7 linked regions of the Homo sapiens genome follow. The protein of the gene in region 5 purifies or fractionates together with the protein of the main gene of each other region. This does not show direct contact. Each region holds a gene or a part of one and is shown on either strand. Other genes may lie near its edges.

Region 1 (4,345 bases), on a different chromosome or scaffold from region 5:
ACAGCAGCCCTGGGAGAAAAAAAGATCCCTAAGGCAGCAAGAGCCCCAGAGAGACAAACAGATGATGGTTCAGAAAAGACAAGGACTAGCCGGAGGACCAGGGAGACAGAGCACCCAGCCAGGGAAGAGGCCAGCACAGGCAGGGGCTGCATAGCCGCGGGCCCACCTTGGCAATGCGCTCATGCATCCGAGCCTTGCGCTCGTCCCCACCACTCCGGGCCTGGATGCCCGCCTCGCGGTACTTGTTCAGCCTCTGCTGCAGGGCATCCAGCACTGTCTGTGACTCTGTAGGGGCCACTTGAAGGAAAGAAGGAAGAAGTGGGCATCAGGTCAGCCTGCCCTCCAATGCCTGCAGGTCCCCACGCCACAGTCCCACCATCCTGCCCTACCTGGGGTTGCTGGGACGTCAGGGGCCATCACTGGCTGCACTCGCTCCACGGCTGGGGGAATGACTGAGGGTGCTGTGGGAGCCTGAGAAGCCTGCTGGGGCTTCAGATCTGGGGGACCCAGAGTAGAGGTGTAGGTGGGAGGGCCTGGCCAGCCCCAGGCCTGCTACTCCTCCCCAACCCCACCGCAGCCTGAGAAGATACATACTGACCCTCAGGTGCCGGGGGCATGGCACTCAGATCCACGGGCTGCCCCTTCTCCAGGGCCTCCAGGACAGCACCGAATCTCTGCAGAAGTTGGAAAAGCAGGTGTGGGTGAAAGACAGGGGACCCCAAGAGCCTGGGCTGAAACAACCCCCACTTAGGCCAATCTCACTCAATCTCAGTCTAGCTCCCTTTCTGAGCCTGTTTCCCCTATCTATAAAATGAGGGTGGGTGCCCTGAGCCAGATGCCATACCTTCCCAATCCTCATGAGCTCTCGGGCACGGTCTAGCTCTCCAGCCCGCTTGGCACTGAGGGCAGCCACTTTGTACTCTCTCTGTCGGGATGACAGCAGGGCCCGCGGGTCTGGGTCTAAGTCTGAAACGGGCTGGGCAGAAATGCCAGGGAGGCTGGTCTCAGGTTGGGAGGGGTTGTCTATAAGGAAACAAACAGTCCCCAGAGAGCACATGAGGGTCACAGAAGAAGGTGCCCACGGACTTCACTGGCTTGAGGATGTCCTGGGGAGGATGTGACCAATGGTAATGAACAGTGGTGGCAGGCTGGGGACACACGCTGTGGGCTATGACCCCAGGAACTAGAACAGGATTTGGGCATCTGCAGATACCTGACTCCAAGGCAGGGGGAGCTGGAGGGTCTGTCTCAGGGCTCCTGTTGGCTGGTTCCTGGGGGGCCAGGGGCCGCTTTCCTAAGGCCACTGGAGGTGGGATCTCATCCTCATTGATCTTTCTGCCTCTCCTCACAGAGGCTAGCTGCGACTCCAAGGTCTGAGGGAGAGAACTGGTCCAGAAACCCAGCCAGCCATCTCAGCCCAGACCCTGCTCCAAGACAGGCCAGGGGTGGCCCCCCAACCCCCAAAGTCTGGTGGGGTGACCTCCCCTCCACTGGTGCGATCTCCACCAGCCGCCTTTCATGCAGCCCCCTCCCCTGCCCTGCTCCCAGCCTAGCCCGACTCACCTTCAGGCCGCGCTCGCAGCGCCTGGCTTTGGCTGCTTCGCCTGCCTCCTTGGCACTGGCCGCAGCCTCTCGGTAGTTGTGAATCCGTTCCTCCAGCAAAGCGTGTAGCCCCTGAGATGCTCCGGCCTATGAACAATTCAGCTAAGGGCCTGGCCACTCCAGGGCCTGCTAGGCCTACCATTCTCCCTCTGCGGAAGCTGCCCTAGAAGATGGAGCTCTGGGACTCCAGGAGAAAGAAGAGCCTAAAAGCCTTAAGGCAGGAAGCAAAGGCTCACTGGAGAGGCCAGAGGCCATGGCAGAGGCAAATACAGAGCCCCACTTGGTGGAAGCCAGGATATGGCTCCCGGGGGGTAGTCTAGGAGAACAGAGAGGCCTTTGAGGCTGGCTGCCACGGAGGAGTTTCTTGTGCTCAGTTTCTGCTTGGGGCGGCTGCTGGGGGAGGGTCCTGGAAAGGGTGACTGCAGCCTTGCTGTGCAGGCCAGGCCACACACGTGTTACGTCTGGGCGCACAGGAGCATCAGAGGCACAGGGGCCCTCCTCCAGAACCCACCTGAGCTGCTGGGGCTGAAGCTGTCAGGACGGCTGTCTGCACTGGAGGTTCAGTGTCTTCTAGGCCGTTCTCCTCCTCAGAGCCGCCTGGGTCAGCTACCTCATCACCATCCAGGGGCTCAGTCTCCTCGTCCACACCTAAGACCTCCTGCAGCTCCGTCTAGGGAGACAAAACACAGCCCAGGAGCTTGGGGGCCTCAAGACCATACCCACAACAGGACCTGAGAGTAAAGGACCCTCTCTCTCAGCAATATTCCCTAACGTCAGTCACTGTGCCTGAGTCCCCTTCACCAAAACATTTCTTTAATCTGACCGAGGATAGCCTTGAAAATAGTAATTACTCCAAATCTGAGAATCCCCAACTGCAGAGCTTAGACCAGAAGTCAAAGAGACACGCCACCCACTGTACAGCCAGGAGGGGCAAGCACTCACTCAGAGTCAGAGAATACAGGGGCACCCCCAGCCTCCTCTCCACTGCCCTCTCCTCCACCAGGCCCAAGCTTGCCTCAGAGCCCTGGGATACCAGCCTGGCAGACACACCAGCAGCTCTGCATCTTCCTCCAGCCCTTCCTCCTCCTCCTCCTCCTCCACATCCCGCATACAGTCTGCCGCCAACTTCTCGATGTGGGCCATGGGCAGGGGGGCTGGGGGAAAAAGGTCACAACAAGTCAGCACAACTCAGATAAGTTCAGGGATGAGTAAAGGAGGGGCTTGGTAGATCCACCCAGGCAGAAATCCCTCTTCCCTCCCACAGCAGAGTCCCACCTGGAAAACTGCTCTTCCTTTAAGACCCAGTTCAAAAGACCCTCAACAGGGAAACCTTCCTTGGCCCCCCACCAAGCAACAAGCTGCTCCTTTCTCTGCACCTCTGCCTACGGTAGCCTGACATAGACATGGCCATCCACTCTCTCCAACCTCCAACAACACCTTTCACATCTGTAAAGATTTTCAAAGTCCAACAGAGCTTCAAAACAAATCTGCAAGATGGATAATATCCCCTTTTCATATATTGAATAAACTGAGAAACTTCCAACATTAATTTTCCTATCACTGCAATCCTTAAGTGGCAGAGCTAGGATTCAAACCTAGGCTTGTGCCACCCCAAGGCAGGAGCAGTGAGCCCCTTCCTAGGTCCTCCCATTATCCTCAACTCAGGGACACACAGGATGGTGGGGGATGAGTGGGGGGATTCTCTGAGGGTTCCCGGTGAAAAGAGAGGACGATTTAGACCTCCTGATCCTCCCAGGCCTGAAGTCTCTGTTCTCATCTGGGCTGTGGAGGGAGATTCCACTTAACTCGCTGGACACAATTTCTATGTACTTCCTATGTACCCAGTTCAGTCTGTGCTAACTGGGCCCCTACCCTACACCAATACCGTGGCTAGGGCTAAGGATGGGGACCTGAGTCAGTCTGAGAAACACATTTGTCCACAATGGGGAGGGGCCAGCCCAGGCCATGACACAAGGTGGGGAAGCAGGGCGAGGCCGCCTCTTGGTGGGAGTGCGGCAGATGGGTATTGGAAGGACCAGGGGATCTGGCTGGCTCCGTCCAGCTGCAAGGGAACCCCTCTACCACCAGCCTGTGCCCATCTTGTCCCAGCACCAAGACCAGCCCTGTGTCCAAACTCACCCTGCCCCTTGGGTGCTGGCTTCTTGCCTGTGGTTTGTGCTTCCCCTGTGAGAGCCAGCAGCTCAGCCTCCAGGTCCTCATCATCTTCAGCCTCATCCATGCCCAGCAGCATGTCCTCAGGGCCAAACTCCATAAAGAGCCCCATCTGAGAGCAGAGCAGGACTCTTAGGAACCACACAACAAGCAGGGTAGGGTCCAGCTCCAGAGCCAGACTTGGGGCTCTCCAAGTCCCAATCAGTGGCTCCTTCAGTCTGTGAGGCCCAATGTGCAGAAAGAAACTGAGGCCTGCAACATTACTCCTTGAGACACTTACCTTCCTAGGGACTCAACAAAAAACCCAGTAAGACCACACTGAAACTGAGACAGTCTTGTGAGTCAGAATTTAAAACACACTACCATTATTACAACCAACAGCAATAGCTGCCATCATGCACTGTTCTTAGCGTTCTATGTGATTATCTTAACCACCTCAGTTAATTCTCACAATTCTGAGAAGAAGGTCCTATTTTTTGGCCAGGCGCGGTGGCTCACGCCTGTAATCCCAGCACTTTGGGAGGCCGAGGCGGGTGGATCACGAGGTCAGGAGATGGAGACCATCCTGGCT
Region 2 (4,345 bases), on a different chromosome or scaffold from region 5:
TTATGGTTAATCTACAATAATACAGAAAATATGGTTGCTATTTTTCAATTTTATATTGCTTATTTCAATGTAAATACAATGTGAATTTTTAACAGTCTATAATTCATCTTATGTCATGGTTATGTATCTTCTGAAGATTGTTTTTATGCTCCAAACTCAAAGGTTTAAAAGCTTTAACGTAGCTGGTAAGGAAATCAGATACTCGGCAATGAATTCTCTGAAAAAGCCCCAATTTTCCCTTGGTTTCTCTTGTTGCTGACACAGGTCACCTTAGTAACGCCTTGCTACAGAAGACTCATTTCTTTTTTCTGTTGAGACAGGGTCTTGCTCTGTCACTTAGGCTGGAGTGCACTGGCGTGATCACAGCACACTGCATCCTCCGCCGCCTGGGCTCAGGCAATCCTCTTACCTCAGCCTGCTGAGTAGCTGGGACCACAGGTGTGGCCCACCAGGCCTGGCTAAATTTTTTTAAAATTATTTGTAGAGACGAAGTTTTGTCTCTGGGCTGTTTGCCCAGATTGATCTCAAACTCCTGGGCTCAAGTGATCCTCCCACCCCGGCCTCCCAAAGTGCTGGGATTACAGGTGTGAGCCACCGCACCAGGTGTTTTTTTCTTTTTTCTTTTTGAGATAAGGTCTTGCTCTTTTGCCCAGGCTAGAGTGCAGTGGCAAAATCACCCCTTATTGCAGCCTTGACCTCCTGGGCTCAGGGATCCCACCTCAGCCTCCCAAGTGGCTGGGACCACAGTCATGTACCACCATGCCCAGCTAACAGGTTTTTTTTGGAGACAGGGTCTTGCTCTGTCGCCCAGGCTGGAGTGCAGTGGCGTGATCTCAACTCACTGTAACCTCCGTCTCCCAGGCTCATGCAACTCTCCTACCTCAGCCTCCTGAGTAGCTGGAATTGCTGCAGCATGCCAGCATGCCCAGCTAATTTTTATATTTTTTGTAGAGACAGGGTTTTGCAATGTTGCCCAGGCTAGTCTTGAACTCCTGAGATCAGAAGATCCACCCACCTTGGCATCTCAAAGTGCTGGGATTATAGGCGTGAGCCACCACACCCAGCCACTGCTAATAGTTTTTATTATTTCTGTAGCGATCTCTCTGTGCTGTCCAGGCTGGTCTCAAACTCCTTGGGCTCAAGTTACCCTTCTGCCTCAGCCTCCCAAAGTGCTGGGATTACAGGCATGAGCCACTGTACTCCTGGTCTCATTTCTTTTTCTTTTCTTTTTTTTCCTAATTAGGAATTGATGTGGAATAAAGACACATTTATAAGTGTGGAATACAATGAGCCCACCATGCTTCACTTTAAGTAGATGGGAAATGTAAATTAACCTTTACTTGAAAGGTTAATTTAATAACATTAAATTAATAAGAGAAAACTTACGCTGCCTGCTTTCAATTTTTGTCAGGAAAATTGTAGGCTGCTGAAATTTTTCAATCTAATTTTATGGACAGAGCAAACAGAAACAAAGATTATTACCTTTCGGGAAGAATGTAAATAAGAATTACTACCTAGATAAGAAATTAGAAGGCCGGGTGTGGTAGCTCACGCCTGTAATCCTAGCACTTTGGGAGGCCAAGGTGGGTGGCTCACTTGAGGTCAGGAGTTCGAGACCAGCCTGGCCAACATGGTGAAATCCCGTCTCTACTAAAAATAAAAAAATTCGCCGGGCATGGTGGCACGCGCCTGTAATCCTAGATACCCGGGAGGCTGAGGCAGGAGAATTGTTTGAACCCGGGAGGTGGAGGTTGCAGTGAGCTGAGATCGTAGCACTGCACTCCAGCCTGGGAGACAGAGCAAGACTCTGTCTCAAAATAAAATAAAATAAATTAGAAGCCAGGCACAGTGGCTCACACCTGTAATCCCAGCACTTTGGGAGGCTGAGGCAGGTGGATCACCTGAGGTCAGGAGTTCGAGACCAGCCTGGCTGAAATGGTGAAACCCCACCTCTACTAAAAATATATTAACTCTTAGATTACATCTTTTTGAGGATAAGATGCAAAATATAAAATGCCACTGAATCAATATTCTTATGAAATCATTTTTGTGCCATGCCAACTTTCTCTCTATATACATCTACAGTCAAATTTCACTACTCACAGTAGCTATGTTCTAATGAACACTGAATTAACACATATAAAACCACTACTCCTGGGGAAAAATACAGGGCTGGGTTCCTGCAAGTCTCTGGTCATAACATTCTGGTCAACGGATCAATATACAATCTTGTTTAATGTCAGCTTTTGTTGAAAGGCACCTTATTTAACATACCTTGTTAATTCATTAACACTGAACACTAGACAGCGCTTCAGTGCTATGCTTGGGGACCATTATAAACAGCAAAAACTGGCCAGGCTCAGTGGCTCATGTCTCCAATCCTATCACTTTGGGAGGCTGAAACAGGAGGATCACATGAGCCCAGGAGTTTGAGACCAGCCTGTACAACATAGTGGGACCCTGTTTCTACAAAAAAAATTAAAAATTAGCCGGGTGTGGTGGTGAATGTCTATAGTCCCAGCTGCTCAGGAGGCTGAGGTGGGAGGATTGCTTGAGCCTGGGAGGTTGAGGCTGAGACCCTGTCTCAAAAAAAAACAAAAAAGTCACCAATAAGAAGCACGACAATGTGAAAAACATAGCACCAAATGCACCTCAAAAAGGACCCTCTTTATAGTATGAGCTGAAACCGGAAAGCAGAGCATCGCCCTGCCCCGCCTCAGCTGTAACATTTGCCTCAGGAGACCCAAATTCTTCACTGCTCTGCTCATGTATGTGAATAATCATGAAAGCACTGAGCACTGACATTAGGGTTACAAATAAATTTTAGCCAGTGAGTGAATTCACAAATACAGAATCTACAAATAATGAGGATCAACCATATGTATAAATACAGGCCATTTGCTTTTTATCATTAACACTGTGACCAAGATTTGATGTGATCTTTACATAAAAATATTAAGCAAATTTCCAAACCTGGTGTAAGCCAGGATTTCTGATCCCCTTACTGCTAAATGAACAAACAAAAAAGAGACCACACAAAATGCCAAAACTAGAAACTATAAACATGCAGAAAACAGTGCTGCTGGACAAAGTCACGCCATTCCACAAGTGGTACCACTGGCCAAGGGTGGACATAGCATGCATTTACCTTCAGGAACATAAGGAAGAGCTGACCCGGTGTGAGGACTTCCTGGTTCACCAAACTATCAGGATTGTCCTCCATGCACTCTCCTTTGGCTAAAGCAAAGAGCTTTCGCGTCATGAGACAAAGCATATAAAACTTTTCAGTATTGGATTTCAAGTGGATACAGATGCACTGGCTGTGAAAACAGAAAAAAAAAAAAGCTTAAAACAATTCAGTTGGTAATACTACTTAATATTCTATTAACCAAGATCCCCAACTCATGCTTACTTAACTTTAATTAAATAAAATTAAGCATTCAGTTTTTGAGCTACACTGGCCACATTTGAAGTGCTTATCATGTGACTGGTGGCTATGCACTGGACAGCACCAGTATGGAGCTGGCTTCTTTAGTAATTATACAGTGGTTATATAAGACAAAGTCCTTGCTTTGGAGAAATAAAGTGATACAATCCCTGCAACTTTCAGGGATTGTACAGAAAGAAAAATGTACATCTGTGTACACAGAAAGTAAAAAAGTAAATGTAAATGAATGAAATGTTCACAATTAGAATCCAATGTACTATTTGGACATTATTCTGGAAGTCTGAAATTATTTCAAAATAAAAGTTAAAAAGTACTATAAAATAAAACACGACTACTAAAAAAATACAAGTGAGGAGGGCCGCAAAAACAAAGGTAGCCCCCGGCTAGCAAGGACCAGGATTCTACCCCAAGATTCATTCTCATTCCCAAATGACTCGCCCGCCCAAACTGCAACCAATACAAAGAACCACTGACAGCCCTCCGCCCCTCCAAAAACAGTTTAGACAAAGCACACATACTTAAACAGGAACTCCGCAGCTTGCTCATTTGGGTACCAGTCAGGAACATTGAGTTTTACTCTGAAGCATTCACCTAGGTAGTTAAGGACCTGTTTTTGTGTCGAACAACCCTCTTCCATTACAATCCTTAACATCTGAGAAACAGAGTTCCTAAGGAAAGAATCATCCTCTTTTCCTTTGATGAGCTCCTGAAAGATCTGATAATCAGAAAAGCTGACAAGTGCCTAGAATAGAAAATAAAAGGTTTAATTGCTCACTAATAACTAAAATACTTTATCTATTCACTAATAATTATCTTCTCTCATTTTTTTAATACCCAAGGAAAATTAGCACTCTGCTATTGCTGAATCAAAGTAAACTCTCTAAAATAAAGCATTCT
Region 3 (4,345 bases), on a different chromosome or scaffold from region 5:
ACGCGCCCCTCCCTCAGCAGCCGCAGCAGCCCAGAGGTGGACGGGCCTGGGAGGCACCCTCAGCTCCACAGTCCCCAAAACACACCGGCTGGGGACGGGGCCACCCGGGTGGCCATGTGGCAGGTGGGGCACCTGGTGGGTCTCACGTGGACACGTGCATCCTCGAATGCTCCGGTCACGCTCCACACGCGCCACAGACACAGGCCACACGCTCCACACGCCACAGACACGGGCCACACACTCCACATGCCACAGACACGGGCCACACACTCCACACGCTCTACACACTCCACAGACACAGACACACACGAGGCAGAGCAAAAAGCAAAAAGGTGGAAAGAAACCACATGGCGCAGGATTCCAGTCAAGATGTCGGCAAGGAGTCACTCATCCAAACTCAGGTGCCTGAAGACACGGCTGCAGGGCGGTGCACGTACATGGAGCTGGCACGCACACACGCAAGTGCACAGGCCGGTACCCACGTGTACACAGCACACACACGTGAACAGGGCTGGCAGAACACAGATGTGACTGGGCTGGTGCACACACGCATGTTATCAAGTTCTGGCTCCTGAGAGAACAAGGGCAAGACGCCCAGTGCCCAGACCCTGGCTTCCAGCTCCAGCCACGGGAGACAGGGCTTCCTGGAAAGGCGGCAGCTATTGCACTGGGGCAGGTGGCACGGAGGCGAGCCCAGAGCATCTCACCGTGCCAGGAAGCGGGAAGGAAAGCCTGGAGCATCTCGTGGTGCAGGGAAGCGGGAAGGAAGTGAAGCTCAAAAGCCCCTAGGACAGGGCACCTCCCCTCTGGATGCTCTTTCCAGAAACCCTCAACCCTGTACGGTCAGGAGGAAACATGGCACCTCCCCTCTGGGGGCTCTTTCCAGAAACCCTCAACCCTGTACGGTCAGGAGAAAACACATCCCACAAGCCCAAACTGAGGGACAGCCTAAAACCTCCTACCCAGCCCTTCTCAGAACTGTTACGTCCTCACAAAAACGGGAGAGTCTGAGACACCGTTCCAGCCCAGAGGAGACAGAGGAGACAGGACAGCTGAGTGAACGTGGGTCCTGGAGGGACGGGGCCCTACGCAGGAGAAGGGCGAGAAGGGACCCGCGTGTGGGAAGGGAAGTCTAAACACCCACAGCGGCCGCTGTCGCCGCTCGGCGCAGGAGTCAGGGAGACCCGGAGACCTGCTGTTACTTCCCACTCCCCATGCCCACCTCCTCAAACGAGACAGCTTGGGGTTTCGTTACAGGCACCAAAAAGAAACCCCGGTCCAGCTGGAGACGCACCGAGCAGAAGCCTCAACTCCCCTCGCCCAGGCGTGCAGCCCACCCCCAGCACCGGCTGAGCAGGGACGGGGACCCTTCCCCTGTGATGCCGCGAGCCAGGCCTTCGTGAGCTCAGGGGTGGTGAACCTGACAGGCCCCAGGGGCACCAGCAGCCTCTTCGTGGGTTGGTCAGCTCACCACCAAGTGAACTCAGGCCACGCAAGGACCCCCGAACCGTACCATCTGAGGAGAGGTGCAAGGGGACACCACACCTGGTGCCCAGGTCCTCCAGCTGGCACCGTGCCTCCGTCCCACCAGCTCACCTGTGCTCCGCCCGAAAGCCTGGATCCTCAGGGCCCTCCCGCCTGGCCCTCAGCCCAAGGGCCGTGGCACAGCCAGACCAGTCCTCACACCTTTCCTACCTGCTCCTGCACCCCAGGACCCCAGCCCTGCCCAATCCCCTTGCTCACCAGCTTTGCCACCTGCCCCTCTGCACTGGTCCTGGAGCACCAGGCCCGGCGGGAAGGCGAGCTCGTGGCCAGGCCCTGCGGGAAGGCGAGCTCGTGGCCAGGCCCGGCGGGAAGGCGAGCTCGTGGCCAGGCCCGGCGGGAAGGCGAGCTCGTGGCCAGGCCCGGCGGGAAGGCGAGCTCGTGGCCAGGCCCTGCGGGAAGGCGAGCTCGTGGCCAGGCCCTGCGGGAAGGTGAGCTCGTGGCCAGGCCCTGCGGCGGGGGCTGCCTCCTTGTGCCCAGGTCTCGCAGGTCCCAGGAGGCCCAGGGTGTTCTCTCACCTGCACCTCGGCTCCCTGCCCGGCACCCTGGCTGGCCTGGGGGACTCACGGGCACGCCCTGACCCTGCTCTGCCTCCAGGGGTGAGGCCAGCGCTGAGTGCAAGTAGGTTCCAGGGCCACACCGCAGGGCACCCCGGCCGTGCCGTAAGGAGTAAGGCGCCCGTGCAGGACCTGGCTCCTTGTGGGTGAGTGGTCAGGTTGACCCATCTTGGACCCCTCACAACAGGCTCTCGAGACTCAGGGATGGGGTCGGGGGAGAAAGCTCGGCACTAGGCACAGAGGCAGCAAGAGGGTCTCGGGACTCAGCAGGGTGGGGGCAGTGACGGCCAAGGATGGGCCACTGACAGCACAGCTCTGCTCCCGACCAGGCCAGCAAAACAAGCCAACCCCACACACCCCCAGCCTGCGTGTGATACGCGGCCCGTGTGTGACAGGGACCCCAAACACACAGGGTAGAGGGCGTGTCAGGAGGAGCCCAGAGCACCCTGTACCAGCTCTCCAGCCACCTGTGGCAGCCCCTCACTCCTCAGCCAGGCCTCGTCCAACTGGGGCTGCAGCCTGCGGAGGCTGCCCGTGGCCGGCGTCTGCCCCTCAGCATGGAGGACGCTGACCACTGCAGTGCCGCGTGGGCTCCTCCAGGCTGTCCTAGGGACGGCCACACAGGCCCACTCTGGCCCTCTGAGCCCCCGGCGGACCCAGGGCATTCAAGGAGCGGCTCTGGGCTGCCAGCGCAGGCCTCCGCGCAAACACAGCAGGCTGGAAGTGGCGCTCATCACCGGCACGTCTTCCCAGCCCGGCAGGTCCCGACACAGGGCCCGGCGCCCCCCACCGCGCAAAGCCAGGATAGGAACACACAGGCGAGCGCACGCGGACAGCCCCCCAGTCTGGGCACATGGCGGCACCTACTTGGAAAAGATGACCATCAGCTTCCTCCGGCTCCGCCGCGGCTCCGCGTCCTCATCAAAGCCACCCAGGTCCTTGCCTAGGAAGACCTCCTGGTGGAAGCCGCGATTGAGGTGCCCGTCCATCTCCAGCTTCACCCCGTTCAGGTGGTCTGGGGGCAGGATCTCATTCTCCTCCCTGTTGGCTACTCTCTCTCGAGTGGACGAGTGGTTGGCAGGCCGTGCAGACGCGTCCATCAGAAGGACTGCCCCCAGGAGCCAGAGGCAGCACGGAGCCAGGCCAATGAGGGGACCCCACCTGGACGCCATCGCCACCCAGGGCCAGACCATGGGGCGGGCTGCAGGGTGTGGGCCAGGTGCTGGGAGGGGCAGGGGCAGGGGCAGAGGAGGAAGTGAGGTCCTGGCTCCAATCCAATCCCCGGGCACCACGGAGGGCTCTGTGTCCCCAGGACGGCCGCAGGATGGGGACAAGCAGCTCACAGTCTGCAGAGAGACACAGACACATCATTAGCAAGACTCAGCAAAGACTTCCCCAAGCACGTCTATCCTGCAACATGAAACATATCCTCGATTCACAGGATCCAGACATGTGGCATCGCCTTCTCCAGACCACACGTGGCACTGCCTTCTCCAGACCACACGTGGCATTGTTTTCTCCGGGCCACACGTGGCATTTGTTTTCTCTGGACCACACGTGGCATTTGTTTTCTCCGGACCACACGTGGTGTTTTTTTCTTTATTTTTAGAAACAGGGTCTTGCTCTGTCACCCAGGCTGGAGTACAGCGGTGACCACAGCTCACCGTGACCACGAACTCCTGGGCTCAGGTGATGCTCTGGGCTCAGGTGATGCTCTCGCCTCAGCCACCGGAGCAGCTGCGACCACAGGCGTGCACCCCCACGCCCAGTAATTTATTTTTATTTTACTCTTTGTAGAGACGGGTCTCGCTGTATTGCTCAGGCTGGTCTCAAACTCCTGGCTTCAAGCGATCCTCTTGCCTCAGTCTCCCAACGTGCTGGGATTACAGGCGTGAGCCACTGTGCCCGGTCTTTTTTTTACAGACACTGAGTTTTCAGCCCTGTCTCTCCGTCTTTCCATCTCTCTCTCGAGCTGTCAGCACCTCCAGGGGCTAACCTGTCCCCATCGCCCAACACCTGCAGCACAGCTTTCCTGTGGGGCCCGGCTCTGTCCCTCCTGGCATCATGCCACTGACCCATGGGGTTAGGGTCACTCTCCAGACCCTGACTTGAACATTCTTGAGATCTATGACCTTAGCTAAGTCATGTGGCCTCCCCGGCCTCAGCTTCTCACTAAGAAACAGGAGGCTCCCCCTCTCCCCCCGACTGACCAGGCTTTGCGAAGACAGCCAACCCTAAGTGCAGAG
Region 4 (4,345 bases), on a different chromosome or scaffold from region 5:
TTGTATCATATTGGACATGATAAGCAACATTCAGTAAATATTTGTTGATTGAAAAGAGGCTAATACAGTAAAACTATAGAGGGAACTTTAAATCCTACAGCTAATAGGCTGATTTTGAAAGTGAAACATAAAATGTTTATATAAATTAAGCTTGTTTCAGGATGCAAAAAAAAAAAACCTCAAGAAAAAAAGCAGAAGTTTTTAAAGAAAATAGCAAAAGTCAAAGAAATAAATTACAGAACATAGAAATGGTGGTGTTGATGTTTATATAATACATCCAGAAAGAAGTAGAAACTTAAACCTAACTTTAGAATTAGCTTTATAAAGCTACACATACAAATGCTATAATATGTGAGATTGATTGGGAAAACCAGGAATTGAATTTTTTTTAATAATTCTTGCTTATCTATCTCTCTCTAGTTATTGTGACCAACTGAAAGTCTCAGAGAGTACCCACGTGCTCCAGCCCTTCCTCCCCAGCATCCTTGATGGCTTAATTCACCTAGCAGCCCAGTTCAGCTCAGAGGTCCTCAACCTGGTGATGGAGACCCTGTGCATCGTTTGTACAGTAGACCCCGAATTCACAGCAAGCATGGAAAGCAAAATCTGCCCCTTCACCATCGCCATTTTCCTAAAGTACAGTAATGGTATGCTGCCAGGGAGGATGTATTATGAGGGGCACCAAAGAAAAGGTGGTGGCTGGTGAATTTAAATGAAAGATTCCCTAGGTCTGGTCTTAGCTATGAAGCTATGGTTTTAACATCGTAAGCAAAGAATCTGGCTTTCAATTAGCAAAAAATAGAATTGTGCTGTAAATGTAGCAGCATTAAAAAATAGAGTACCTATTTCTGTAACACTTACTCTCTAGTAAGGACTTAGGGATAAAGATAATAAATAAAGGGCTAATAAGCAAGAGACATAATTCAGAACTTTGATGATAGAATAGGAAATTGGGCAAATGAAAAGCCTCCTAAAAGAAAAGGGCTAGGACTATAATTTAGAAAAGGAGATACTAAAGAAAGATATATGGAAAAGTTTATAAACAAAGGTATTCACTAGATATTTTTTACAGTAGTAAAAATTTGGAAATTATAAAAAGACATTAGTTAATTATATCCATAAAATGAAATACTGTGCAGCCATTAAAAATCAAGCTTAAAAGGAATATCTGAAACCATGGGAAAGAGCTTACATTATAATAAATGAAAAGATACTTTTCCCAAAAAATCCATAGAATATGATCCCAAGTTTTGATTTTTCTTTTAGAAAAGCATGTATGTATAGATAGGTATGTTTTAAAAAAAAATACATCAAAATGTTGAGTGTTTAGGTAGTGGAATTACAGGTGTTTTCATTATTACTTTTCTGCATTTTAAGTTTTTTTTTTCCTGTAGTGAATGTATTTATTAATACCTTATTACTAGTAAAATATTAAGGATTCTTTTTTTAAAGAGAGAGCTCCAATATTGAAGCTCAGAAAGATGTACAGGATAAGGATTATTTATATAATGTGATATACTGAACATGTTATTTGATAGCTTTTTCACTGAAAAATGTGTACTGAGGAGCTTTCCACATTGTGTTCTTGGATATATCTCATTCTTTTCAGCCATTACTAATGTTCCATAAAATGGGTATATCATAATTTACCCATTCTGTTAATGGACATCTAGGGTATTCCCAATTTTTTTCTATTACAAACAATGCTGCAGTGATCTTTTAAGGTATACTTTAATGCACATTGCCTATATTTTTCCATACTAAATAGAGGAGGATGTTTTGTTCTATAGATAAAGAAGATTGAGCTAAAGTTCCCTTTCTTCATAAGGCTCTGCTTTTTAGGAGTTTTGCCTTTTGCCCCAGAAGTAGCTTTGAGAGTTCTTCATGTCTACCGTGGCTACCCCATAGGAGATATGTATGATTTCTCTCATGCATCAAAGCCAGTGTTTTGGCAATTTTTGCAGCTTTCATGTCTTCTTAAAGTATCAGTTGGGCTTTTTTTTTTTTTTTAAGCATTTGGTTTTATAACGTAGGTTTCACAAGAATAAAGACTTTAAAGATTTTTCTCTAGAAAAAGCCACATTTTGTTTTATGAGTAGCTGTTAATGACTAGTCCCTACTTTAATGAAGCCATACAAAGTGTACCTCTTGCAGATTTAGGATCTCTCCTGTTCTTTCAGGTTATTCATGTGGCCCCACTAGGTCCCGGGTATGTGATAAGTAATCAATGCAGAAGTTGTTAACTTAGGTTAGGGCCAAACAACAGGCATCATTAAGCGAGAAGCAGATGCAGACCATCAGGCAGGGGGATTCCGTGTTGCCTTATCCACTTCAGATCCCGTCGTCGCCTCACTGGCTCAGGACATCTTCAAGGAGCTGTCCCAGATTGAAGCCTGTCAGGGCCCAATGCAAATGAGGCTGATTCCCACTCTGGTCAGCATAATGCAGGCCCCAGCAGACAAGATTCCTGCAGGGCTTTGTGCGGTAAGTGGCCGTGTGTGTGTGTGTGTGTGTGTGAGAGAGATCTACAAGTGCCACCCACAGATGCATCTAGCTGACAAGAACCTAATAGCGTTAGAGATTCATGGGGTGATTTTGCTGAGCTCTTTTGCCTGCAAGGACAGTGGGTGATTCTCTGAAGCTTTAAGAAAATGGCTTGGCTTGGCGCGGTGGCTCATGCCTATAATTGCAGCACTTTGGGAGGCCGAGGTGGGTGGATCACAAGGTCAGGAGTTCGAGACCAGCCTGGCCAATGTGGTGAAACCCTATCTCTACTAAAAATACAAAAATTAGCCGGGCATGGTGGCAGGCATCTGCAGTACCAGCTACTCAAGAGGCTGAGGCAGGAGAATCACTTGAACCCAGGAGGCAGAGGTTGCAGTGAGTGGAGATCGTGCCACTGCACTCCAGCCTGGGTGACAGAGCGAGACTGCCTCAAAAAGAAAGAAAGAAAGAAAATGGCTCTTCTTGTTCCAGAGGTACCCTCAGTGAATTGAACAGAGTGCCACCTTTACACAGTGCCACTAAGTATGTCACCTGGTTATCCAATCCACTACCATGTACTACTGCCCACCCCTATGGCTAATCAATTAGTAAGCTATTATGAGAAGGCTGAGAGTACTACCCATTTAATTATTCCTTTTATTTTGGAAACTTGCCTTTCATTAATAAGCTTTCTCTGGGTTGCTATGTAATACCCATCCAGTAAGGATCTTGGTTGTTGGGCAACCCCCACCCCAGAGGCAATTCTGACTTTTCTTTTTCTTCTCTCTTTCAGACAGCCATTGATATCCTGACAACAGTAGTACGAAATACAAAGCCTCCCCTTTCCCAGCTTCTCATCTGCCAAGCTTTCCCTGCTGTGGCACAGTGTACCCTTCACACAGATGACAATGCCACCATGCAGGTATCTGAGACATGGAGAGTAGAAGAGGGAAGATAGCTCCCCAGCCATGGGCTTATACTATGCTGAGAAATCTGACATGGTTTTATGCTTTTGAAATACGGAATTCTCAACTCCATATTTACTTAGCAGATTCAGGAAGGGTTCAGTCTGCAAAAGCCAAGCATTTCTGGTGCTTTGGAGCATGTTACAGTTTTTAAAAATATGGATACCAAGCACCCTGCCCATCTGTATTGGGTATTGCTACTGTGAAAGAGGTTACAGACATCTAGACTTGGGGCCATAAGAAAGTCTTTCTGCATATTTCTTCTAGTAATAAAGTCAGCAGAGTGATGGGCCTCTAGAGAGGGGAGACATGCCTGAATATTTTTTCTCTTTTTGTTTCTTGGGTGAATTGGTTACCTTTTCAGGTGTCTGCTACTGTGATTGATTAGAAAGGTTATAGGAACTTGCCAGTGAATATTGATCAGCTTGGAAATCCCTAGGCAACTAGTGGTTTGTGTAAGACCTATATAAAGACCTACAGTATCCCCAGTTATTCCAAGATTGTAAGCATATTTTTTTAGTACCAGAGGTAGACCTTTATGATTAAAATTCATTTTGCTTGGCCATTGTCCCTTGTGATTAAAAAAATATATATACACATTTGTGAGATAGCTGATTAGGTAAAGGGGGAATTATGTAATGCACGTCTATGTCTGTAACAGTAAATGTCTTAACTCCAGTGGTATGAGCCCACCACAAACATTATAGACTCACCGCTTTTATGAGGCATAGGCCTCTGGGAACATTTGTTTATACAGACTGAGGGCCTTCTGGCATCTGTCCCTCGATTACTAATCTTGCTTGCCACCCCTGTCTCCCCAGAATGGCGGAGAGTGCTTGCGGGCCTATGTGTCAGTGACCCTGGAACAAGTAGCCCAGTGGCATGATGAGCAGGGC
Region 5 (4,345 bases):
AGTCTCCAAAAACGAAGGAAATATGAGTGATGTGAGTGAAAGTGTTTCAATTTAGAAACCTGCTGTATAGATAACCAACATAATACGAAAGCTGAAGGAATCAAAAGGAGTCCCATTGCTACAGGCCCAATTTGAATGTCAGAAATTGCTGTGGTAGGACATTGTAACCAACTCTGCGCTACTACCACAAATGTTCTATGGATTCTGTTTCTTAAATAATAAGAGTTGAAACTACTTGATCAGTGGCAGCATAATGGATGTTGTCTTAGCAGGCATGAAAACATTCATTTCTTTCTACATCTCCATCAGAGCTCTTGGGTGACCAGCTAAATTGTCAATGAACAGTAATATTTTAAAAGGAGTCTTTTATTTCTGAGCAGTAGGTCTCAATGGTGAGCTTAAAATACTTAGTAAGCCATCCCGTAAAGAGGATGTGCTGACATCCAGGCTTTGTTGTTCCACTGACAGAGCACAGACAGAGTTGATTAAGCACAATTCTTAAGAGCCCTAGGATTTTCAAAATGGGAAATGAGCAATGGCTTCAACTTAAGTTACTGGTTGTATTAGCCCTTACCAAAAGAGTCAGCCTATCCTTTGAAGCTTTGAAGCCAGGCACCGACTTCTCTCTAGCTACCAAAGTCCTAGATGGCATCTTCTTCCAATATAAGGTTGTTTAGTCTACACTGAAAATCTGTTGTTTAGTGTGGTCACCTTCACCAATGATCTTGGCTAGATCTTCCAGATAACTTGCCACAGCTTCTCCATTAGGACTTGCTACTTCATGTCAAACTTTTACATTATGAAGACGGGCTTATTTCCTTAAACCTCATGAATCAACCTCTGCTAGCTTCAAACTCTTCTTCTGAAGCTTCCTAACCTCTCTCAGCCTTCATGGAATTGAAGAGAGTTAAGGTCTTAGTCTGGATTAGGCTTTTGGCTTAAGGGAATCTTGTGGCTGGTTTTATCTTCTATCCAGACCACTCAAACTTTCTATCAGCAATAAAGCTATTTCGCTTTCTTTCTTCTTCTTTTTTTTCCTCGAGACGGAGTCTTGTTCTGTCTCCCAGGCTGGAGTGCAGTGGTGTGATGTCAGCTCACTGCAACCTCTGCCTCCCATGTTCAAACAATTCTCCTGCCTCAGCCTCCCAAGTAGCTGGGAGTACAGGCGCCTGCCACCACACCTGGCTAATTTTTGTATTTTTAGTAGAGACAGGGTTTCACCATGTTGGCCAGGCTGGTCTCGAACTCCTGACCTCGTGATCCGCCTGTCTCGGGCCTCCCAAAGTGCTGGTGTGAGTCACCACGCCTGCCAAATGTTTCACTTTCTTATCATTCATGTGTTTACTGGAGTAGCACTTTTAATTTCCTTTAAGAGCATTTCCTTTGCATGCATAACTTGGCTACCTACTTGGCAAAAGCAGCCTAGCTTTTGGCTTAGCTCAGCTTTTGACATGCATTCCTTACTAAGTTTAATTATTTCTCACTTTTGATTTAAAGTGAAAGACATGTGACTCTTCCCTTCACTTAGAAGCCACTGTAGGATTATTAACCGGCCTAATTTCAATATTGTGGTATCTCAGGGAATAGAATAGGGAGGCCCAAGGAGGAAAGAGACGGGGTAACAGCCGGAACACACACAACAATTATTGATTACGTTTACTATTTTATATGGGAATGGTTCCTGGCATCCCAAAACAACTATGATAGTAACATTAAAGATCACTGATAACAGATCACCATAACAGATGTAATAATAATGAAAAAGTTTGAAATATTGTGAGAATTACCAAAATGTAACACAGAGATATGAAGTGAGCATATGCTTATTTGGAAAAATGATGCTAACAGACTTGCTCAACTCAGGGTTCCCACAAACCTTCATTTGTTTAAAAAAAAAAAAAAAAGCAATATGTGCAAAGTACAATAAAATGAAGTATGCCTGTAAATGCTATGTAAATAATTGTTACACTGCATTGTTTTCAACTTTCTATTATTTTTTACTGTTTATCATTTTTTAAAAAAGATATTTTCAATCCATAGTTGGTTGAATCTGCAGGTGCAGAAGCTGTGAATATGGAGGACCAACTGCATACCATTGTAAATGGGTGTTTGGTTAGAACGGTCAGAAGCTACAAAGCAGGCATGAACTACAGATGAGAATAACTTAAGAGACATTCTGGGATAAAACAGACAATGACCGAATGGATGCAGATGCTGGAGAGAAGGACATTTCCTTCACTGGTCCTGAACTAATCCCAGCAAACTGAGGTGACTTCATAAATCCTTTCTCTTCCACTGGAATAATCACATGACATTGTTATTGTATTACTTTGTCAATTTTCATTTTTTTAAAGCCCAAACAGAAGAGGAAGATACTTTATCAATTTTAGAGTAATATATTACTGTGTCCACTTCTGCTATTAAATCATAAACTCTTTCATGACAGAAACTTAGCATTAATTTTTGAGTCCCTCACTGTTCAATGCATATAGTAGGCACTCAATGTTTAATTGTTGGTTAAATGTAAAATAAATGAACTTACATTTTGCTTTTTCTTCTCCTGAACCAAAGCTACATAGCGCAATGCAATCTTGGTCAGAGTTGTGGCAAGGGAGGCAGCAACAAAGAAATCTCCATCCAGAAGGAATCCTCTCAAGGGAGGTCTGCAAAGCAACCAAGGAAAATCAAACCCACCAACTTGCTAAGCAGCATGCAGCTTCTGTATAAATGAATGATATAGGCCTATTAAACACTCTTATTACCATCCTTCAGTGATAAGGATACCTTAGCTAACTAACTCCTTAGCTCCCAGAAGAAAGAAGGAAAAAGAAAAATAATACATGACTTTAAAACTTATCTTTGGCCAGGTGCAGTGGCTCACACCTGTAATCCCAGCACTTTGGGAGGCCAAGGCGGGCGGATTACCTGAGGTCAGGAGTTCGAGGACAGCCTGGCCAACATGGTGAAACCCCGTCTCTACTAAAAATACAAAAATTAGCTGGGCATGGTGGCACAAACCTGTAATCCCAGCTACTCAGGAGATTGAGGCAGGAGAACTGCTTGAGCCCAGGAGACAGGTTGCAGTGAGCCATGATCGCGCCACTGCACTCTAGCGTGGCCGACAGAGCAAGACTCTGTGTCAAAAAAAAAAAAAAAAAAAAAAAAAAGAAAACTTATCTTTGAATGACACAAAAGCCATCAGAATATGGAAAGATACAATATTTAATTAGGGGCATACGTAATTGCAGCTAATGAAGTACCTCCGAATTCCAGCTTACCTGTTTATTTACTGGGTAAGCCTCAAATTCTTCTTCCATAAAATGGAGATAATATATTCTATCTCAAAGGCTTATTGTCAAGACTATATGAGACAAACTACTTAGCACAATGCCTAGCACTTAGTGGGTATTCAGTAAAATTTTAGGCAAAGATTTCACCATCTTCACCATTAAAATTTACTTAATAGAAAAATGCACAATTTTATTCCATCATTTAGAAATTGAAAAATCTTCAAAATGTTTTCAGATGCTAATAAACAACAAAACTCAAATATCTTCAGTTACCCCCACTTAGCATTTTCTGAGTAAAAATAATTTGAGTTTAAACAGAACAGTTATTTCCATAAAAACACTGGAAGGGACAGAGAATTAAAACCATCAATACAATTCCTAGGGGGAAGAACTTAAACATCCTCCGCTTCTCAAGTACCTTAAATGGCAAAGATTTTCATTTTGGTTGCAAAAGCAAGAGGAAAGAAATCATTTGACTGTCTTACATACAAGAGTAATAATAAAAGTAGTACAGCTGGCAGGGTATATGTGCCATAAATTACCTGTCTTCCTCTTTCTTGGTGGGTCTAGAACTGCTAAGGGCACTCTGAGTTGCATAGGTACCCATTTCAGTAACCAATTTCTGAACTGGCCCTACAGTTATTTCTTCTTCAGGTTTTAATTCACCAGCTTCTTTCTTTATTTCTGACTCTACAATTGGGATCTAAAAGTCAATTGGAAACATCATTTTAGTAATAGTATCAACAGCAAGCAAAATTATCTTTAAATATTTGATTGTTTCTCTAAAAAAGGCATTACCCTAATGGGATTTTTGGAACTGGGAACTCTGCTTTCAATTTATTTCCTTCCCAGGATAATGTAGTAGGTAGAATAGGGGCTTCAGAGATGGATATTCCAGGGTTTGAATTCTCACTCTGCCACTTACTACTTTGGACCTCAGTTTCTTAATCTGCTAAGTGGAAATCTTAATTCTTTCTACACATTTTACCTAATAGAAAAATGCATTGGACAGTGTCTAACACAAAGCAGATGGTCATTAAGTCGTATTCCTCTTC
Region 6 (3,500 bases), on a different chromosome or scaffold from region 5:
ACCTCATATAAGCGCAACTATAAAATATTTGTCCTTTTGTGACTGGCTTACTTTACTTAGCATAATGTCTTCAAGGTCTATCCATGTTGTAGCACGTATCGGAATTTCATTCCTTTTTCAGGTTGAATAATATCCTAACGTGTGCACATACCACATTTTACCTATTCATTTGTGGATGAACACTTGGGTTGTTGCCACCTTTGGCTACTGGGAGTATTGCTACTATGAACACTGGTGTACAAGTATCTGTTTGAATCTCCACTTTTGATTCTTTTCACCTAGAAGTGAAATTGGTGGATCATCATTCTGTTTGTTTAACCTTTTGAGGAACTGCCAAACTGTTTTCCTCAAGAGTATATTAAATGGAGGTTGTGGAGTCAACTTCTAGAGAGTGCTAAAGACCAGCAAATGGCCATCTGAGTGGGTCTGTGCCATTAGATCAAGAAAGAAGGACAATGCTAGAAACACCGGAGCATCCAGGGCTGAGAGTGTCCCGGGCCACAATAGGCACACATTGGTTTTGAGGCACAAACTGTTGAGTCTGTTAATAAGAAAGTATTGTATTTCTTCTTGGCCTCACGAGAACCTGAGCCTCAATGGCCACCACTGTCCTCTCTGTTCCAGCTGCCAAGAGTGACAAGACACACATACCCCGAGACTGCTGAGCAAGAACGGAAACAGACATTTTCCATTAAGCTAGGTCCAGTGGGATCTGCTAATCTATCAGAGCCTCATTCCCCACGGCGGCCTCTCTCTTATCTTCCCAGGCTCTGGCTCTGAGACACTCCCTCTCCAAAAAGCAATCACTAGCTTCCAGGACTAAAAGCCAAGGAGGAAATAAGAACCCAAGAACAGACGCCCCCTAAGCACCACACCCCGGGGCTCCAAACCCTAATCATTACTACTGTTATCCCCATTTGCTACATTCATCAACCCTTTTTCACTCTTAAGTCTCAAGTACCTGCTGCTAGGATACCGTTTTCACTCCCATTTTTGCACTCCTCATTTGTATTGCTTTCTGCTTTCTGGCTGCCCCAGGCTCTTCCATGTTTTCCATAGACACCCCGATAAACACAACAAATCTCATCCAGGTTCAAATACAATTGCAGCTACTCACAAACTGTGTTTTCAGGCAAATCACTTCTGTTCTCTAAACTCCTGTTTTCTTCTTTATAAACTAAAGTAAGTGCCCAGCACAGTTCAGACATTAAGCAGGTGCCCCACACAGATAAGCACACTCTCCCTTCCCTTTAGCTAGGGCTAAAACTTAGCTAAATCCACTGCAGGCAATTCTTATTTGGTTACTAGAAGTGACAAAAATTAGTGAAATCTGTCTCAGAGCTTCAAATTTTCTACTATCTTGGTAAACAATCTGAAAGTGGTGGTAAATACTAATCCAGATAACCCTGAAATTTCTGTGTGCTTTGGAATACACTTTATAAATGATAGAAAACTCTTCCAGCAGACTTATTCTTCTGATTTTGGTTTCTCATATGCTAGGAGAAGTCTGCCTCCCCTGAGCCTATGAAATCAACCAGTGTAGCTTGGGTCACAGCAAGAAGGGAAAAAGAAAGGACGATTATCCATTCTATGGATCATTCCTAATTCCCCACAAAAATCAAAAGCTGACTGAATTTAATTTTGGAATACGCCTGGAGGGAGAATTTGGTACTACGCTGACTGCAGATGATTGGATAATATGACCCAAATCAAATCAACCAAATTCTCACTCCAGGAAAACCAGAATTGAGACTACCATCATAGTTCAATCTGGACTGATCTCTAAAAGGAAAGAAATCAAAACCAAGGTGTGGGTGGCCATCCTTCACCTACAACAAAGGTTAAGAAGCCAATCCGCAGAGAAATAATGAATCAAGGCCAGAAGCAGTGGCTCACGCCTGTAATCCCAGCACTTTGGGAGGCTGAGGCAGGCAGATCAGTTGAGCCCAGGAGTTTGAGACCAGCCTTGGCAACATGGTGAAACCCCATCTCTACTAAAAATACAAAAATTGACCAGTCCCATAATCTGGTCTCAAAACAAATAAATAAATAAATATATTAAAATTTAAAAATAAAACAAATTTTTTAAAAAATGAATCAGATGTGCAAAGAACAGCTGTGTAGAGATCCCCAACAGATCTCAGGTTCCTGATGCAGGTCCCTTCTGAGGTACCACAGTATATTTATGATGCATTACCATTTAAGGCTAGGCGTGGTGGCTCACATCTGTAATCCCAGTACTTTGAGAGGCCAAGGCAGGAGGGCTGCTTGAGCTCAAGAGTTCAAGACCAGCCTGGGCAATGTAGCGAGACAACGTCTCTATTTATTTAAAAAAGAAGAAAAAAAAAAAACATTTAAACTAGCTTGAGTTGGCTTCTAACACTTGCAACAAATGAAATCTAACTAACCCCCAATCTGCTCTGCCTCCCGTATTCCCTCAATAAATGGCAACACCACCCCCCAGCTGCCTGAGGCAAATGCAGTGGGGGTCAATCTTGAATCCTCTCCTTAGTGTAACATCTAATCAATCCTCCAGTCTTATCACTTCCCCCTCCTAAATATACCTCGATGCTCCAGTTCTCTCCATCCCCTAGTTCATCATCCAGGCCACCAGCCTCTCACATTCTGCCAGTCTTGCTCCCTCCAAGGTTCTCACCACTCTGTGATCAGAGAATTCTTGCCTTTAAGGGGTCTTCACAACCCCAAAATGAGGTAGAAAGACCCTAGCATGGCATCCAAGGCCCATTATCTGGCCTGAGCCTCTCTCTCTCTAGCCCCATTCTCTCAGCACTCCCCACCCTCTCAAATGCTCCAGCCACTGTGCTTTACTCACCTGAGGTTCCCTGAAAGCACTGTCCCTCTCTGTCCTCCAAGCTTTTATACATTGTTTCCTCTGCTGTGCTGCTCCCATACTACCCTTTCTTCAGCCTTATCTCTGCTTAGACATCTCCCCCCAGAGGGCTCCCCAACCTCCCAAGACTGGACTAATGCCCACTAGGTATACTCCAATGGCACCAGCTTATCACGGTCCTTCTCTGCCTTGTCCTAAAATCTATTTCCTTCTGTGTTTTCTCCAGTAGATCATAAGCTCCTTTCGGGCTGGGGCTATCATGTTCACTACTGTACATTCTTAGCTCCAGGTACAAAGAAAGAGCTCAATATCAATTGAACGAAATGGTTGAGAGTTAATTACTTCTAATTACTTCTACTTCAGCACCAAACTCTAAAGGGAAATTATTTACTTAAGGAAACCTAATTCATTCTTTCAAATGCGTACTAAGAGCCTAAGTGTAAGACATAGAGCTCAGAACTGGAGGGGCTTACATCTGGAGGGGGCACAGCTCTTTTAAAGACAATGGTTGGCTGGCGTGGTGGCTCACACCTGTAATCCCGGCACTTTGGGAGGCCAAGGTGGTCAGATCACCTGAGGTCAGGAGTTGAAGACCTGCCTGACCAACATGGAGAAACCCCAGTCTCTACCAAAAATACAAAATTAGCTG
Region 7 (4,345 bases), on a different chromosome or scaffold from region 5:
ACCACAGGCGTGCACCACCATGCCCAGTTAATTTTTGTATTTTTGATAGAGACGGGGTTTCACCATGTTGGCCAGGATGGTCTCGATCTCTTGACCTCGTGATCCACCCGCCTTAGCCTCCCAAAGTGCTGGGATTACAGGCGTGAGCCACTGCGCCTGGCCTAATATGGAGATCTTTTAAAGGAGCACTTGCTGTTACTAAAAGCCTAAGAAAAAGTGTTTATTTTTTTCCTTTTAAAGGAAACGAGGTATCAGTTACTTCAGCTTCGACCTGCGCAGAGAGCATCATGGATTGGTTATGCTATTGCTTACCATTTATTAGAAGATTATGAAATGGCAGCAAAGATTTTAGAAGAATTTAGGAAAACACAACAGGTAATAACTAGAAGCCATTTTACTAAGTCTGATCCTAAGTATAACTAAAAAAATAATGTGCATAGTCTGGCTTACTTTTAATTTTGAAATAGTTTCAAACTTATAGAAAAGTTGCAGGAATAGCACAAAGAACTCTACATAGGGGTTCATTCATACTAAACTAATTGTTAATATTTGGTGCATTTACTTTAAAATTTGTGTATCTATTTATCTATTTTAATTTTCTTCCTTAAATGTTTGAGAGTAATTGCAAGACATCATGCTCCTTTACCCCTAAATGCTTTAGTGTGTATTTTCTAAAAATAACTGTATAGTTTTCAGTTCTCTAGATAGTATTATAGGGATAGATTATAAAAATTAGGAAATTTAACACTGATAGACTGTTATCTAATTAATCCCCAGCCCATATTCAGAATTTACTAATTGTCCTAGTTATAGCCTTTCTAGCAATTTGATTTCATTGCAGGATCCAATTAAGAATCATACCTTACATTTAGTTATCATTTCTCTTCAGCCTCTTTTAATCTGAAACAGTTTTGAAAACTTCCTTTGTATTTTATGACATAGACATTTCTGAAGAAGGCTGTGCTTTTGTAGGATGTCCCTCAATTTGGATTTTTCTGATGGTTCCTCATTCTTAGATAGAGTTTTATAATTTTGGCAGGAAACCATATAAATGATATTGGGTCCTTCTGCGTTCATTACATCAAGAGGCACATGCCATCAGTTCGTTCCATTTGATTACATGGTGAAAGTTGTATTTGCAGTTGTAAACGTATTTTTCTCTCTTTGTGTTTAATATGCAGTTTGAGACTGAATAGCCTATTGCTCATCAAACTTTCACCATCTAGTTTTAGCATTCATTGATTATGATTCTTGCCTGAATCAGTATTACTATGATAGTCGCAAAATGGTGATTCTCTTAACTCTAGTCATTCCTTGTAGGTTTATTATTTGGCATTCTACTCCTGAGTAAGAGCTTTCCCTTCTTCCCCATATTTATTGTGTGTAAGGACTTATGGATTATTATTTTATTCAACCTGTTATATCCTAATATTGTCATTATTTACTCAGTTGCTCTGTAGATACTTAAGAATTTTTTAAAAATTAGTTTTATCAACCGGATGTTATCCTTTGACTTCTTACATGTTTTTGAGTATTGTGAACAATTTTCTGATATGAAAATAAAATTCTTACTGTCAGTATTCCTTATATCCATATACAGACATCCCCTGACAAGGTGGATTATGAATATAGTGAACTACTCTTATATCAGAATCAAGTTCTTCGGGAAGCAGGTCTCTATAGAGAAGCTTTGGAACATCTTTGTACCTATGAAAAGCAGATTTGTGATAAACTTGCTGTAGAAGAAACCAAAGGTATTTTTAAAAGAATTGTCATTTATTCTAATATTGAAATATGACAGAGCAAGGCTGAAAAATCTAGTTGCTGCTGACAGTTTCATATAATTCAGCTTTTTGATGATAGGAAATCTATTTCTTACTCGTGTACTTTTAATAGTTTATGATGTGGGAAAATGTACATTTAAACAATATTGTAGATAGAGGAGAAAGTTGATTGTGAACAATGAAAAGTAGTTGAATGAAATGACTCATAACATTCTTTAAATAAAGTATCTTTGTATTAAAAATATTATGGAATTTGATCAAAACACAAGAGACAATTAGTTTTATAAGACAGAGGATGACATTTCTTAGAAACAGTTTATTAATAAACTATAGTGTATGTAGTATGTGCCAGATTTATTGCTAATAATATATATTGATGAATCAGTCTTTACTAAAATACATATAGGATATTTCTGAGAGTCTTTATGGTTAATCTGAATGTCTTCGATGACACAGAAAGAATATGAGTTCTGGAAGAAAGGGAGACCAGAGATTTGGGTTCATAATATGTAGATTGTGATAGGAGGGGTAGATCCCACTCAGCAGAGGGCTGAGAAAAATGAGTCTTAACAGTTTTAGAAGTTGAGGGCGTGATTATAGAAAATAAAAGAAGAATAACAAGTAATGAAAGGACAAGTGATTTTTTAAAAAATTACCTTCTGAAATGCTGCTTTGTCCTTGCTAGTCTAGGGAACTGAAGTTTGCTGGTTTCACATTCCCTTGGCTCACCTTGAGGTTGAACACAAAAAGTATAATATACATCCATGTGCATAATAGGTATAGCCATTGTTTGCCAGATAAACTTTTGTCGGAGGATAATGGTACTGATAAGAAAAACTGGAATTCTAAGACTTCTGGAGGGAGCTCTCTTGTGAACTGCAGATCCAAGACAACCTTCTTTCATTTGAAGTAGTCATTCTTTAGTAGTCTGTTAATCACAAAGGAAGGAAATTTCTGACTTGCTGGAAAGATGGCAAGTCTGGAAAAAACTTGTCTCATTGGCCACTAAATAGCTCTGTGAACAGAGTCAAGGCTTGGGCCTCAAGTTTCTTTATGGAAATAAATGACAAATTATTTCATTTGATCCCTTTGATAACTTCATTAATGAGGAAGAATGGCAGATAGGTAAAGTTAGATAAAGGACTCAGAGCTGACCAGTGGATTTTTAGCAATTTAGAAGTCATTGGTGACCTTAACAAAAGCACTTTCTGAGCTTCTGGAAGAAGGATGGTAAAAGCCCAAACATCAAGTCTATTTAAAAGAGACTGAGGCCGGGCGCGGTGGCTCAACCCTGTAATCCCAGCACTTTGGGAGGCCGAGGCAGGTGGATCACGAGGTCAGGAGATCGAGACCATCCTGGCTAATCTGGTGAAACCTCGTCTCTACTAAAAATACAGAAAAATTAGCCAGGCGTGGTGGCAGGCGCCTGTAGTCCCAGCTACTCGGGAGGCTGAGGCAGGAGAACGGCGTGAACCTGGGAGGCGGAGCTTGCAGTGAGCTGAGATTGTGCCACTGCACTCCAGGCTGGGCAACAGAGCAAGACTCCGTATCAAAAAAAAAAGGGAGTGGGAGTAGAGGAACTGAAGATAAGAAGCACACATGACTCAGTTGAGGAGTTTTGCTGTAAATGAAACAAATGGGGTGCCGGTAGGTGAAATGGGATGCAGGCTCAAAAAGTTTTTGTTTGTTTGTTTGTTTTTCATAGCGTGTATTTGTGCTGACTGGGGAGTGATCCAATAGAGATAGAATATTTGATACAGTAGAGAGAATGTCATGTGGTAGATTGATGTCATGTGAAGGATTAATTTAGGTAAGAACATGAATAGTTCACATCAACAAGTAGTGGTGGTGTGTAAGTGGCGGGCAAGTAAATGTGTAGATGTAATGCATATTTTGGAGTTTCCTCTAATTGCTTCCGTTTTCTACATGAAATAAGAAATAAGGCTATCAGCTCATTCCACAAAATATGTATTGAATACCTACTTTGAGTTAGGTAATGGGACAGGGTGTATAAAGAGAATAGAAGGGAAGTGAGGGTAGAATCAATCTTTGGAAATTCTAGCAATCTTTAGAAATTCAAGGCAGTGTTGCTGGTAGGGATAGTTGGTGGGAGAAGATAAGATGGTCAAGATCACTCAGGAACTTCTTAGAGTGGATCAATGGGCACAGTTAGGCAAAAAAAAAATTTTTTTTTTTTTGAGATGGAGTTTCACTCTTGTTTCTCAGGCTGGAGTGCAGTGGCGCGATCTTGGCTCGCCGCAACCTCCACCTCCCGGGTTCAAGCGATTCTGCCTCAGCCTCCCGAGTAGTGGGATTATAGGCATGTGCCACCATGCCTGGCTAATTTTGTATTTTCAGTAGACATAGGCTTTCTCCATATTGGTCAGGCTGGTCTTGATCTTCTGACCCCCAAAGTGCTGGGATTATAGGCGTGAGCCACCGCACCCAGCCTAGGCAAAATTTTTTATTGTTTATTCTTATACCACCAGTTCCTTCTGCTCAGAAAAGGTAGAAGATAGAGGGAAGGAAACGAGGATGGGTATAGTGTAGAGGGGAGTAAA

The links.
Region 1: the proteins of COPB1 (region 5) and CC2D1B fractionate together in Homo sapiens (co-fractionation; one large-scale study listed by BioGRID). This does not show direct contact.
Region 2: the proteins of COPB1 (region 5) and POLR1B fractionate together in Homo sapiens (co-fractionation; one large-scale study listed by BioGRID). This does not show direct contact.
Region 3: the proteins of COPB1 (region 5) and SDF4 fractionate together in Homo sapiens (co-fractionation; one large-scale study listed by BioGRID). This does not show direct contact.
Region 4: the proteins of COPB1 (region 5) and IPO9 fractionate together in Homo sapiens (co-fractionation; one large-scale study listed by BioGRID). This does not show direct contact.
Region 6: the proteins of COPB1 (region 5) and PRCC fractionate together in Homo sapiens (co-fractionation; one large-scale study listed by BioGRID). This does not show direct contact.
Region 7: the proteins of COPB1 (region 5) and NAA15 fractionate together in Homo sapiens (co-fractionation; one large-scale study listed by BioGRID). This does not show direct contact.

Annotation. Positions count from the first base shown.
Region 1 is NC_000001.11:52,358,861-52,363,205, forward strand, and holds part of CC2D1B (coiled-coil and C2 domain-containing protein 1B), read right to left. Parts: intron 3,887-4,345; coding exon 3,742-3,886; intron 2,757-3,741; coding exon 2,653-2,756; intron 2,273-2,652; coding exon 2,114-2,272; intron 1,690-2,113; coding exon 1,564-1,689; intron 1,374-1,563; coding exon 1,214-1,373; intron 1,024-1,213; coding exon 845-1,023; intron 675-844; coding exon 599-674; intron 498-598; coding exon 390-497; intron 298-389; coding exon 167-297; intron 1-166. UniProt on the Homo sapiens protein: Transcription factor that binds specifically to the DRE (dual repressor element) and represses HTR1A gene transcription in neuronal cells.
Region 2 is NC_000002.12:112,551,620-112,555,964, reverse strand, and holds part of POLR1B (DNA-directed RNA polymerase I subunit RPA2), read right to left. Parts: intron 4,191-4,345; coding exon 3,967-4,190; intron 3,321-3,966; coding exon 3,149-3,320; intron 2,427-3,148; exon of another isoform or gene 2,275-2,426; intron 1,442-2,274; exon of another isoform or gene 1,386-1,441; intron 1-1,385. UniProt on the Homo sapiens protein: Catalytic core component of RNA polymerase I (Pol I), a DNA-dependent RNA polymerase which synthesizes ribosomal RNA precursors using the four ribonucleoside triphosphates as substrates.
Region 3 is NC_000001.11:1,225,502-1,229,846, forward strand, and holds part of SDF4 (45 kDa calcium-binding protein isoform 2 precursor), read right to left. Parts: intron 3,446-4,345; 5' UTR 3,293-3,445; coding exon of another isoform or gene 3,272-3,292; coding exon 2,967-3,271; intron 1-2,966. UniProt on the Homo sapiens protein: May regulate calcium-dependent activities in the endoplasmic reticulum lumen or post-ER compartment. Isoform 5 may be involved in the exocytosis of zymogens by pancreatic acini.
Region 4 is NC_000001.11:201,866,313-201,870,657, forward strand, and holds part of IPO9 (importin-9), read left to right. Parts: intron 1-420; coding exon 421-647; intron 648-2,335; coding exon 2,336-2,484; intron 2,485-3,277; coding exon 3,278-3,406; intron 3,407-4,270; coding exon 4,271-4,345. UniProt on the Homo sapiens protein: Nuclear transport receptor that mediates nuclear import of proteins, such as histones, proteasome and actin. Serves as receptor for nuclear localization signals (NLS) in cargo substrates.
Region 5 is NC_000011.10:14,471,953-14,476,297, forward strand, and holds part of COPB1 (coatomer subunit beta), read right to left. Parts: intron 3,994-4,345; coding exon 3,833-3,993; intron 2,664-3,832; coding exon 2,543-2,663; intron 1-2,542. UniProt on the Homo sapiens protein: The coatomer is a cytosolic protein complex that binds to dilysine motifs and reversibly associates with Golgi non-clathrin-coated vesicles, which further mediate biosynthetic protein transport from the ER, via the Golgi up to the trans Golgi network.
Region 6 is NC_000001.11:156,770,535-156,774,034, reverse strand, and holds part of PRCC (proline-rich protein PRCC), read right to left. Parts: intron 1-3,500. UniProt on the Homo sapiens protein: May regulate cell cycle progression through interaction with MAD2L2.
Region 7 is NC_000004.12:139,342,586-139,346,930, forward strand, and holds part of NAA15 (N-alpha-acetyltransferase 15, NatA auxiliary subunit), read left to right. Parts: intron 1-240; coding exon 241-375; intron 376-1,600; coding exon 1,601-1,754; intron 1,755-4,345. UniProt on the Homo sapiens protein: Auxillary subunit of N-terminal acetyltransferase complexes which display alpha (N-terminal) acetyltransferase (NAT) activity. The NAT activity may be important for vascular, hematopoietic and neuronal growth and development.